2 linked regions of the Homo sapiens genome follow. The protein of the gene in region 1 purifies or fractionates together with the protein of each later gene. This does not show direct contact. Each region holds a gene or a part of one and is shown on either strand. Other genes may lie near its edges.

Region 1 (5,459 bases):
ATTTAAATGCCAGAACTACCAGTTCTTTTTCTTGGAAGAGATCTACTATACTACGTCTAGCAATGTTTTCTTTTTTTTTTTTAAGCCTATATTTTTAATACATTTGTTCCCCAAAAGGTCACTTTCTACTTTCAAAAAACATGTGAGTCACTCGAGATGAAAAACAGCTTATCTAAAAATGTGTTATAGCTCCCAATAACTCCAAACTGACATCCCAAGATATGAGGCTGTTCCACAGTGAGAGAACTTGGAAACTGGAACTCTCTGATTACTTACTTGTTAAAAAAAGGTTCAATGAGTTTTGATCTGGCAGACACATGAATTTTTGGAGGGCTGAGAAAAGAACCTAATGAAGAAAAGAAGAGAGGTATTATTATTCATAGTCACATAGACCAAGCCTGAAAGTTCAGACCAAAACAGATTTAAATTAACAGCATGGTTCAACAAGTGTGAAAGGTATTCTTTTTTTTTTGAGTCAGAGTTTCACTCTTGTTGCCCAGGCTGGAGTGCAATGGCGCAATCTCGGTTCACTGAAACTTCCACCTCCCAGATTCAAGTGATTGTCCTGCCTCAGCCTCCCGAGGACCAGGGATTACAGACATGTGCCACCATGCCCAGCTAATTTTGTATTTTTAGTGGAGACAGGGTTTTTCCATGTTGGTCAGGCTGGTCTCAAACTCCTAACCTCAGGTGATCCACCCACCTCAGCCTCCTAAAGTGCTGGGATTACAGGAGTAAGCCACTGCGCCCGGCCTGTGAAAGGTATTCTTACGCACCAAGTACCATACCACAGCAAGTGTCAGTGGTTTTTCTTGCAGATTTCCTCCTCCCCTCATCTCCTCCCACTCCTACCTCAAAACCCTCCCACTTTTAATTGGGTGAGTGGATCCCAAGGAAATGGTAGTGCTATAGGTTCAATGTTTGTGTCCCCCTAAAATTCATATGTTGAAGCCTCCCCAGTACGATGGTATTTGGAAGTGAGACCTTTGGGAGGTAATTAAGTCACGAGGGAATTAGTGCCCTTATAAGAAGGGTCAGGAGGCTGGGTGCGGTGGCTCAAGCCTGTAATTCCAGCACTTTGGGAGGCTGAGGTAGGAGGATCACTTGAGCCCAGAAATTCTAGATCAGCCTGGTTAACACAGCAAGACCCTGTCTCTATAAAAAAATTAAAAAGTTAGCCAGGCACAGTGATGCACACCAGTAGTCCCAGCTACTTGGGAGGCTGAGCCCAGGAGTTCAGCGTTGCAGTAAGCTATGATTGAACCACTGTACTTCCAGCCTGGGTGACAGAGTGAGACCCTGACTCTTAAAAAAGAGGCGGCACAGCTTCTGCTCTCTCTGCTCTCCACCACGTAAGGACAGGAGAAGGCAGCCATCTGCAAACCAGGAAGTGGGCTCTCACCAGATACTAGGTCTGCTGGCAACTGGGTCTTGGACTTTCCAGCCTCCTGAACATGAGAAATAAATGTCTGTTGTTTAAGCCCCACACTCGACAGTAATTTATTACAGCAGCCTAAGCCAGGAGACAGGTAAGATCCACCCTAGATCACTGCGTGTTTGACTGAAAGACATGTAATGCGTACCTAGGTAATTGGCCATGGAGATGAAGCACAGCCCTGTGATGTAGGCATCGTAGCCTGCCTCGTGGAGTTGTTCAGAGGCTGTGTCATAACTTGGAAAACCTTCGGCACTTTCTAAGAAAAAAAAGGAAAAAGTTTTCCTCAAAACAAAGACTAGTAAGCACATTGCCCTACCAATCAAAATTGCATTAGCATATGCTAGAGAAATACCCTAAATAGGCAGAAAAAAGCTATCTATTCCTTAATTCTCTCTATATAAGACCTTAAAATACAAGATAACAGAGTCACTGAAAAGGAGGGCTTTGGTCTAGGATACAGAAATGCCTCAGTTAGATTACAAAGGACTCAGCCGTGGGCTTTCTCGTCCCACACTGGTGGGTGCTATTTATGATCATCCATAACTCACTCTAGGACAATGATTCCTCTTCTGCTTGCTTTCTAAGGCCATGAAAAGGATATTCTTCCCTTATACAAGATGGTCACATCAGGCCACAATAGATGATCCAGAGTAAAGATTAAGAGCATGGGCTCTGGAGTCACACTGAGTTCGAATCTCTGCTCCACCACTTATTTGCGGTATGACCTTGGGCAAGTCACTTCATCCCTAAGGTTCCAGTTTTGTAAAACAGAGATGATAATCAAACCTTCTTCAAAAGGTTATTGTTAGGATCAGATAAGATAATATAAGTTAAACTCTTACCTAGTGCTTGGTACATAGTAAGTGCTCAAAAACTGTTATCTATCAATACCTGAGGCAACCCTCCCCCAAAAAAAGAGAAGACTGCAATTCACTATCAACAGCTCCAACTCACTACTGTCCTCTACTATGTTCCCAAGCTTAGAGATCGAAAGGTGACAGCACAACCAACTCCAAAAATAAATCGAACTTGCTATAATGCTGGCCTTGGATCATGGAACCACTTTACAGCAAAGACCGCTTTATATACAATATGGTTCTTTTGTGACATTGATAAATACAGATGTGACCAGATAAACTATAAGAGGAATGACCTGCTTTAGACTGAATTCTCTACCAGATACCACTATTTTATATGGAAATAATAACATAAAACTATAACTCATAAATAATTATATCCTAGAACCATTCTGGAAATGAATGTCAGGAAGGTTACTATAACACAGAATCAAAAGCATAAATGGAAATTAACAATGAAAAGGCTGTAACTGTTTTTATGTCAATACAATGCTCTTTAAGCAAGAATTCTTTAACTCCATATTAAATATTAGACTTGATGCCTTTAAAAAAAAGCCTTTTAACATGGTAGCCACCTAAGTAATATCTTCCACTCCATCATCAACTGAGACACATTCTTTCCAAAATCAATTATTTCCATTATATTGTTATAGAAAAGGTCCACGTTTTCTCCCCCAATGGCCCCACCACCACTTTTCTTAATTCCTTTCTTGGACTATTACCCAGAAAGGGGCAAATAACTGTAATCTTGGCTGCTTTAATACTTTGCATTATCAATTTCTAAACCATTAGTCCTATTATCCATGTCTTTAGAAGTTTTCAGGCTACAACTAATGGCTCGCTAATCACCGTATCAGCAGCACAATCAGGTTAACAGGGACCAAGGAAGTAGCACCTGGTAGGCTCTCCACATACCTTGGTGGTGGCCCGAGGTGGCAAAACACCTCCATCTCATCTCCCTACTTCTGGTTTTCCTCAGTGCTGCTGTTTCTACTCTCTAAACCAGCTGAAAAGGAGGCAGGGTGGGGACTTGCCTTAATCTCACCTGTAAATCCAGTTCTCGGGCTTTTCTGAGATGGAAAATATATTTTTTACTCTACCCCTGGTGATTAATCACTAGCTCTTTGTCTCTGCTTCAATAATGTATGAAAGAATAAAAGGGCACATCAAGTTTTAGGAGAATTCCATATTATTAGAAAATAGAAGCCTTGAAGCTTTAATTGCTAAAATTCTCAATGAATGGCTACCCAACTCCATTAACATAAAATATATGTAGAATTAAAAGACCATCTTTATTCAAAAAACAATAATTCAACACACGGTACGTGCAAGTGAATTCAGCCAAAATCTATAAATGAACAATACGGTCTCCAGAGCCATTCTGCTTTTCTTCTACAATATACATCAATAATTATTACAAAGAGTTTGGAGGGTTTCCGGTTTAATATTCTTACCAACTTTAGGAGGGTTGAAAGGTGTCTCTTTTAACCGCTTTTCCAATTCCGCAAGGGATGTGTTGTTAATGATATCCTGCAAACCACGAAGCAAAGAATTATGAGATTTCATCATCTCAGAACAATATATTAAAGAGATTCACTGACCCCCCCAAAAAAAAGACAGCATCTAGTACTGTCTCCTTGTGTTCTTTAAAGAAACACAGAAGTCTTCGTTTTTTTCAATGTGAAAGAGAAGCAGCTAGTTTAATTTTTATAATATACAAAGTATAACCAAATGAATAAAGATCTTTACAGATGCATTAAATACCTCCAAACCTTTTGCCAGAAGGCTATATTGTTCTGGCATTCATTTCACTCAGTAATATGCAGTCGCTTTATAAAGTAGCAAATGAATAATACCTTAAAAGGTTGTGTGCTGGCCATCAATTTAGTATCCAAGAGTCTAAAAAGAATTTTTAACAAGGTAAACAAAATGTATATCAATGTTTAAAATGTCTTTTACTCAAATATGTAAGCTACTTAAAATACTTCATACATAAAAAACATAATTAAAACATAAAATGTTTAATACAGAAAATACTTAAACACAGACAAAGTAATTAAACACATTGGCCATTTTGAACCCAGCACCAGCATCCCTGCTACGTTGGAGTAGGTACTCAGTCCCATCATCAGCGACTTCATTGAGCAACTGCAGGAGAGTCCACACTTGGAGTACAAGTTCTAGATTCACCTGGATCCTCAGAGAGCCTGGGCTCCATCAATCTCAAGGGTGAGTCAAATACTCTCACATGGTTTTACGTGGTTCAAATACTGCTGCCGGTCTACCATTCCCAAACTGCTACCATCTACTCCTACTCCTCAGGTTTGTAAACTATAAATTCTTCTGCAGGGCCAAAATCTACAATCAGTACTTTCACGCTGTTGTTTTTATTTCTTATTATTCTATTTCAGAGATCAGAAACACCAAAAGGGGAGGGTGGGGAGAAACCCACATGAAAACTCTATTTCTCTGTTTTTTTTTTTTTTTTTTTTCATATAAATGTGAACAGAGTGGGTAACAGGACAGAAATAAGCCCAGCTGAAAGAGAAACTGCTCGAACACCACGCCTATCCCTCTTCAACAGGTCCTAAGACACAAACACTTGTTCGGTAGGCTCCACATGGCTGACCTATGATGTCTCAGAGATATGTGACATATGACCTATCAGAACAAGGGGGCAATAATAACTATGGAAAACACCAACAGGAAAAGGCACTGACTTGAAGTGGATGAAAAACAAAATCTCTAGCCAGATGGACAGTTCTTGACTGACTCTTGAACACTCTCAATTGGACACTTCAATAGTTACAAGGTACATCCTACATGCAAGACAGACAAGAGCCATCTCAAGGAGGCTTCAACAGTTCTTCAGACAGCAAGATGAGAGATAAGAAAAAAGGAGTCGTTGGTCTACTTTCACTCTCAGTTCAAACTGTGATTTTTTGATAACAAAACCAATCATAAATTATAAAAGCAAGCCATCACAACATTGGAGACATTAAATAAGTTCCAAGCTTATATGAACATGATCTAATGGTTTTAACAAATTACTATATACCTATTTGTATTGTGTATGTCACAATGACTCTTTTTTTTTTTTTTTTTTTTGAGACAGGATCTCACTCTGTCACCCAGGCTGGATAGTAGCACTATTATGGCTCACT
Region 2 (4,479 bases), on another chromosome or scaffold:
CAGACAGTGACGGGCCCTCCTGGGAGGACAGAGGCTTCCCAAGCCAATGCCTAAGCTGCTTTCTGCTTTGCAGGGCAAGGAGGAGGAGCTACAGGATGTACGGGATCAGCTCGAGCAGGCCCAGGAGGAGCGGGACTGCCACCTGAAGACCATTAGCAGCCTGAAGCAGGTCAGTGGTCACTGCACAGCCCCAGACACACCCCTGATCCTCAGCGTACAGGAGGGGCAGGGAGGGAGCATGCTTCAGGCAGCCCTTCCGGCATCTACCAGCCATGCCTGCTTTCTCCCACAGGAGGTGAAGGACACAGTGGATGGGCAGAGGATCCTGGAGAAGAAGGGCAGTGCTGCGGTAAGACAGAGCGGTGCCCAAGCACGGCTCCCTCCTACCTGTAGCCTCCCTCCTATGGGCCCACTGGGCCTCAGTCCTCATGTTACCCCTGTCCCCCACAGCTCAAGGACCTCAAGCGGCAGCTGCATTTGGAGCGGAAACGGGCAGATAAGCTGCAGGAGCGACTGCAGGACATCCTCACTAACAGCAAGAGCCGCTCAGGTGAGGGACTAGGACAGGGAGAGGAGGCTGAGGCATGGGGGAGGTAGGGCCTGGGCCTGCAGGCTGCAGGTTAGTCCTGCATCTTCCTCAGCTGTGCTTTCCTGCTTCTGTCGCTCTGGAACTCCATCTTTTACCTTTTCTCTGTCTCTCCTCTGATTCTTTCTCTGCATTCTCTCTTTATTTCTATCTTTCTCTCGTTTTTGCCCTGTCTCTTCTCTGTTTCTGTCTCTGCCTCTGTCTCAGTTTGTTCTCTCTCTTTCCTCTATGTTTGCCTTTATCTCCTTGCTTTCTTTCTCTAGTTTTCTCCTTTTCTCTCTCTTTTTTTTTTTTTGAGACAGAGTTTCGCTCTTGTTGCCCAGGCTGGAGTGCAATGGTGTGATCTCGGCTCACCGCAACCTCTGCCTCCTGGATTCAAGCAATTCTCCTGCCTCAGCCTCCTGAGTAGCTGGGATTACAGGCATGCACCACCACGCCCAGCTAATTTTGTATTTTTAGTAGAGACGGGGTTTCTCCATGTTGGTCAGGCTGGTCCCGAACTCCCGACCTCAGGTGATCCGCCCGCCTCAGCCTCCCAAAGTGTTGGGATTATAGGCATGAGCCACTGGGCCCGGCCCCCGCCCTTTCTTTTCTCTGTCCCTTTATCTCTTCCCGCCACTCTGTGTCCTCTTCGTCTCTTCTGTTTATATCTCTGTCTGTCTCCTCACTGTATGTACTACATTACACACTCCCACACCTCACTTGGCATTTCTAAATCTATTGTATACAATCTCTCATTCTATAAATCTCCCTGCTCAAGTACAGGGTCCCTGATATAAAACTCCCTGAGTCTCTGCCCTCTAGAAGCCCCCAGTTGAGCTACGGAGACAGACTTATACATAGTCAGCAACGCTGTGGTGTTTTCATTATACAGCTAATCCAATCTGTTATTTCTGCCACTTCAAGCAGAAGACACACACACACACACACACACACACACACACACACACACAACTTTAGTTGCTTCAGCCTTTTTTAAGACGGGGATGGCCTATAAATACATTTAAGTAAGTAAAATGCAGTGATGGCTCTGGTGCATCTCTTAGATTACAGACTCAGAGAAAACTTGGTCCCTTATTCCCCCACTCGGGATACCTACGGATCCCCACTCAGTCACCCCACCCTTGCCAGAGATCCTCGAGGGCTTTAAGTGATGTGGCAAAACAGATGTGTATCTCTCACCAAATCAATTTCTCTCTGAGGCACTCGGTCTCCTGAAGTAACCTTTCTTTAAAAAGGAGTTTTGTTTCTGTTTTATCACAGATGAATGTAAGAATCTTGGGAAAGGTGTAATCCCAGCACTTTGGGAGGCCAAGGTGGGTGGATCACCTGAGGTCAGGGGTTCAAGACCAGCCTGGCCAACACGGTGAAACCCCGTCTCAACTGAAAATACAAAAAATTAGCTGGGTGTGGTGGCGGGCGCCTGTAATCCCAGCTACTTCGGGAGGCTGAGTCAGGAGAATTGCCTGAACCCAGGAGGCAGGGGTTGCAGTGAGCCGAGATTGCGCCATTGTACTCCAGCCTGGGCGACAAGACTGAAACTCTGTCTAAAAAATAATAATAATAATAATCTTGGGAAACGTTACAATCGTATACCATACATTCAATACATTCACCTTGTCCATTAGATTAAACTGAGATTTAGGTGCGTGGGTACGAGAGCCTGCTTGCATTTCTTTTTTTTTTTTTTTTTTTTTTTTGTTAGACGGAGTCTCGCTCTGTCGCCCAGGCTGGAGTGCAGTGGCGCGATCTCGGCTCACTGCAACCTCCGCCTCCCGGGTTCACACCATTCTCCTGCCTCAGCCTCCCAAGTAGCTGGGACTACAGGCACCCGCCACCACGCCCACCTAATTTTTTGTATTTTTAGTAGAGACGGGGTTTCACCGTTTTAGCCAGGATGGTCTCGATCTCCTGACCTCGTGATCTGCCCGCCTCGGCCTCCCAAAGTGCTGGGATTACAGGCGTGAGCCACCGCGCCCGGCATCTTTTTTTCTCTCTGTCTCTGCTCTGGCTCACTTCTTTCACCAGGGTCTCAGTTTCTATCATCTGCTCTGGCTTTCCATCTCTGGCATTTTCTTTCTGCAAGTGGATGTGCCCTGTGCCCTCTCTAGCTGTCTTCCTTTCTCTGAACCCTGTGTCCAAGTGTGTCTGCCACTTGAGACCCATGTGTACCCATGTCGTTCTCTTTCTCCAACCTCTTCCATTTTCTCCCTCTCATTTTGTATGTGTTTCTCCAGAAAGGCAGCTCTTTCTTTTCTTTCTGTTTTTTTTTTTTTTTTTTTTGAGACAAGAGTCTCACTCTGTCACCCAGGCTGGAGTGCAATGGTGCGATTTCGGCTCACTGTAACCTCCGCCTCCTTGGGTTCAAGCGATTCTCCTGCCTCAGCCTCCTGAATCGCTGGAATTACAGGCACACACAACCACACCTGGCTAATTTTTGTATTTTTAGTAGAGACGGGGTTTCTTCATGTTGGCCAGGCTGTTCTCGAACTCCTGACATCAAGTGATCAGCCCACCTCAGCCTCCCAAAGTGCTGGGATTACAGGTGTGAGCCAGTGCGCCCAGCCTCAGCTCTTTTTTCTGTCTCTGTCTCTCCCTGTCCTCCTGTCTGCTTCTGCCTTTCCCCATGCCCAGGTGTCTCTCTTTCCATCTCTGTTAAATCTATTTCTGCCTCTTCCTGCTGGTTGCTGCCCTGGGACTCAGGGGTATTGGGGCTCAAGTTTCTCTTCCCTCCACCACCCAGGCCTTGAGGAGCTGGTTCTCTCAGAGATGAACTCACCAAGCCGGACCCAGACAGGGGACAGCAGTAGCATCTCCTCCTTCAGCTACCGGGAGATCTTGCGGGAAAAGGAGAGCTCGGCTGTTCCAGCCAGGGTAAGGGGAAAGGAAGAACCTACAGCTCCAGCTTCTCTCAACCCAAAAATCTGAGAACCCCTCCCCTTTTCTCCTCACCTAAACCCATCTCCTACTTTGGGCGCAGCACACATATTTTCTTGTCAACTTTTCCCCAAGCCCACCAACTTGGATTCAGATTGCGACATGCAGGACAGGCCAGTCATTCTCTCTCTCTGACTTTCTGTTTAATCATCTGTGGGCTAATTCCCCCTTCTCTGGTGCCATAAATTATGTGGCTCATAGTAGGTGCACCATCCAAGGAGAAGGTCCCTTTTTCCAACTTGTAATGATCACTAATTATTATTGCCGGCTGTCATGTCAGCCTCCTTACCAGCCACTTTCCTTTGGAAATAACTTTTTTATTGTTCCACAAATAGTATGTGCTCATTGTAGTACATTTTTTAAAAACCACAAATGAGCAAAGATTTTTTTAAAACCTTAAATGTCTGGCCGGGTGTGGTGGCTCATCCCTATAATCCTACACTTTGGGAGGCCAAGGTGGGCGGATCACTTGAGCTCAGGAGTTTAAGACCAGCCTGGGAAACGTGGTAAAACTCCGACTCTATTTAAAAAAAAAACAAAAACAAAAAAACCTTAAATGTCAAAAAAAAATAATATTTTCACCATCCAGACGTCACCATTATAAATTCTTAGTTCAGGGCTGGGCGCGGTGGCTCATGCCTGTAACCCTAGCACTTTGGGAGGCTGAGGCGGGCAGATCACTTGAGGTTAGGAGTTTGAGAACTGGCCTGGCCAACATAGCAAAACCTCATCTCTACTAAAATACAAAAATTAGCCGGGCGTGGTGGTGCGTGCCTGTAGTCCCAGCTACTCGAAAGGTTGAGGCAAGAGAATCGCTTGAACCTGGGAGGTGGAGGTTGCAATGAGCCGAGATCACACCACTGCACTCCAGCCTGGGCAACAGTGAAACTCCATCTCAAAAAATAAATAAATAAAATAAATTCTTAGTTCATACCCTTCCAGAATTCTCTCTCTTT

What was found. Proteins that work in one complex are often made in the same cells at the same time.
Region 2: the proteins of PARN (region 1) and GRIPAP1 fractionate together in Homo sapiens (co-fractionation; one large-scale study listed by BioGRID). This does not show direct contact.

Annotation. Positions count from the first base shown.
Region 1 is NC_000016.10:14,580,598-14,586,056, forward strand, and holds part of PARN (poly(A)-specific ribonuclease PARN), read right to left. Parts: intron 4,195-5,459; coding exon 4,152-4,194; intron 3,826-4,151; coding exon 3,750-3,825; intron 1,695-3,749; coding exon 1,584-1,694; intron 347-1,583; coding exon 277-346; intron 1-276. UniProt on the Homo sapiens protein: 3'-exoribonuclease that has a preference for poly(A) tails of mRNAs, thereby efficiently degrading poly(A) tails.
Region 2 is NC_000023.11:48,977,286-48,981,764, reverse strand, and holds part of GRIPAP1 (GRIP1-associated protein 1), read left to right. Parts: intron 1-73; coding exon 74-169; intron 170-292; coding exon 293-349; intron 350-450; coding exon 451-550; intron 551-3,329; coding exon 3,330-3,460; intron 3,461-4,479. UniProt on the Homo sapiens protein: Regulates the endosomal recycling back to the neuronal plasma membrane, possibly by connecting early and late recycling endosomal domains and promoting segregation of recycling endosomes from early endosomal membranes.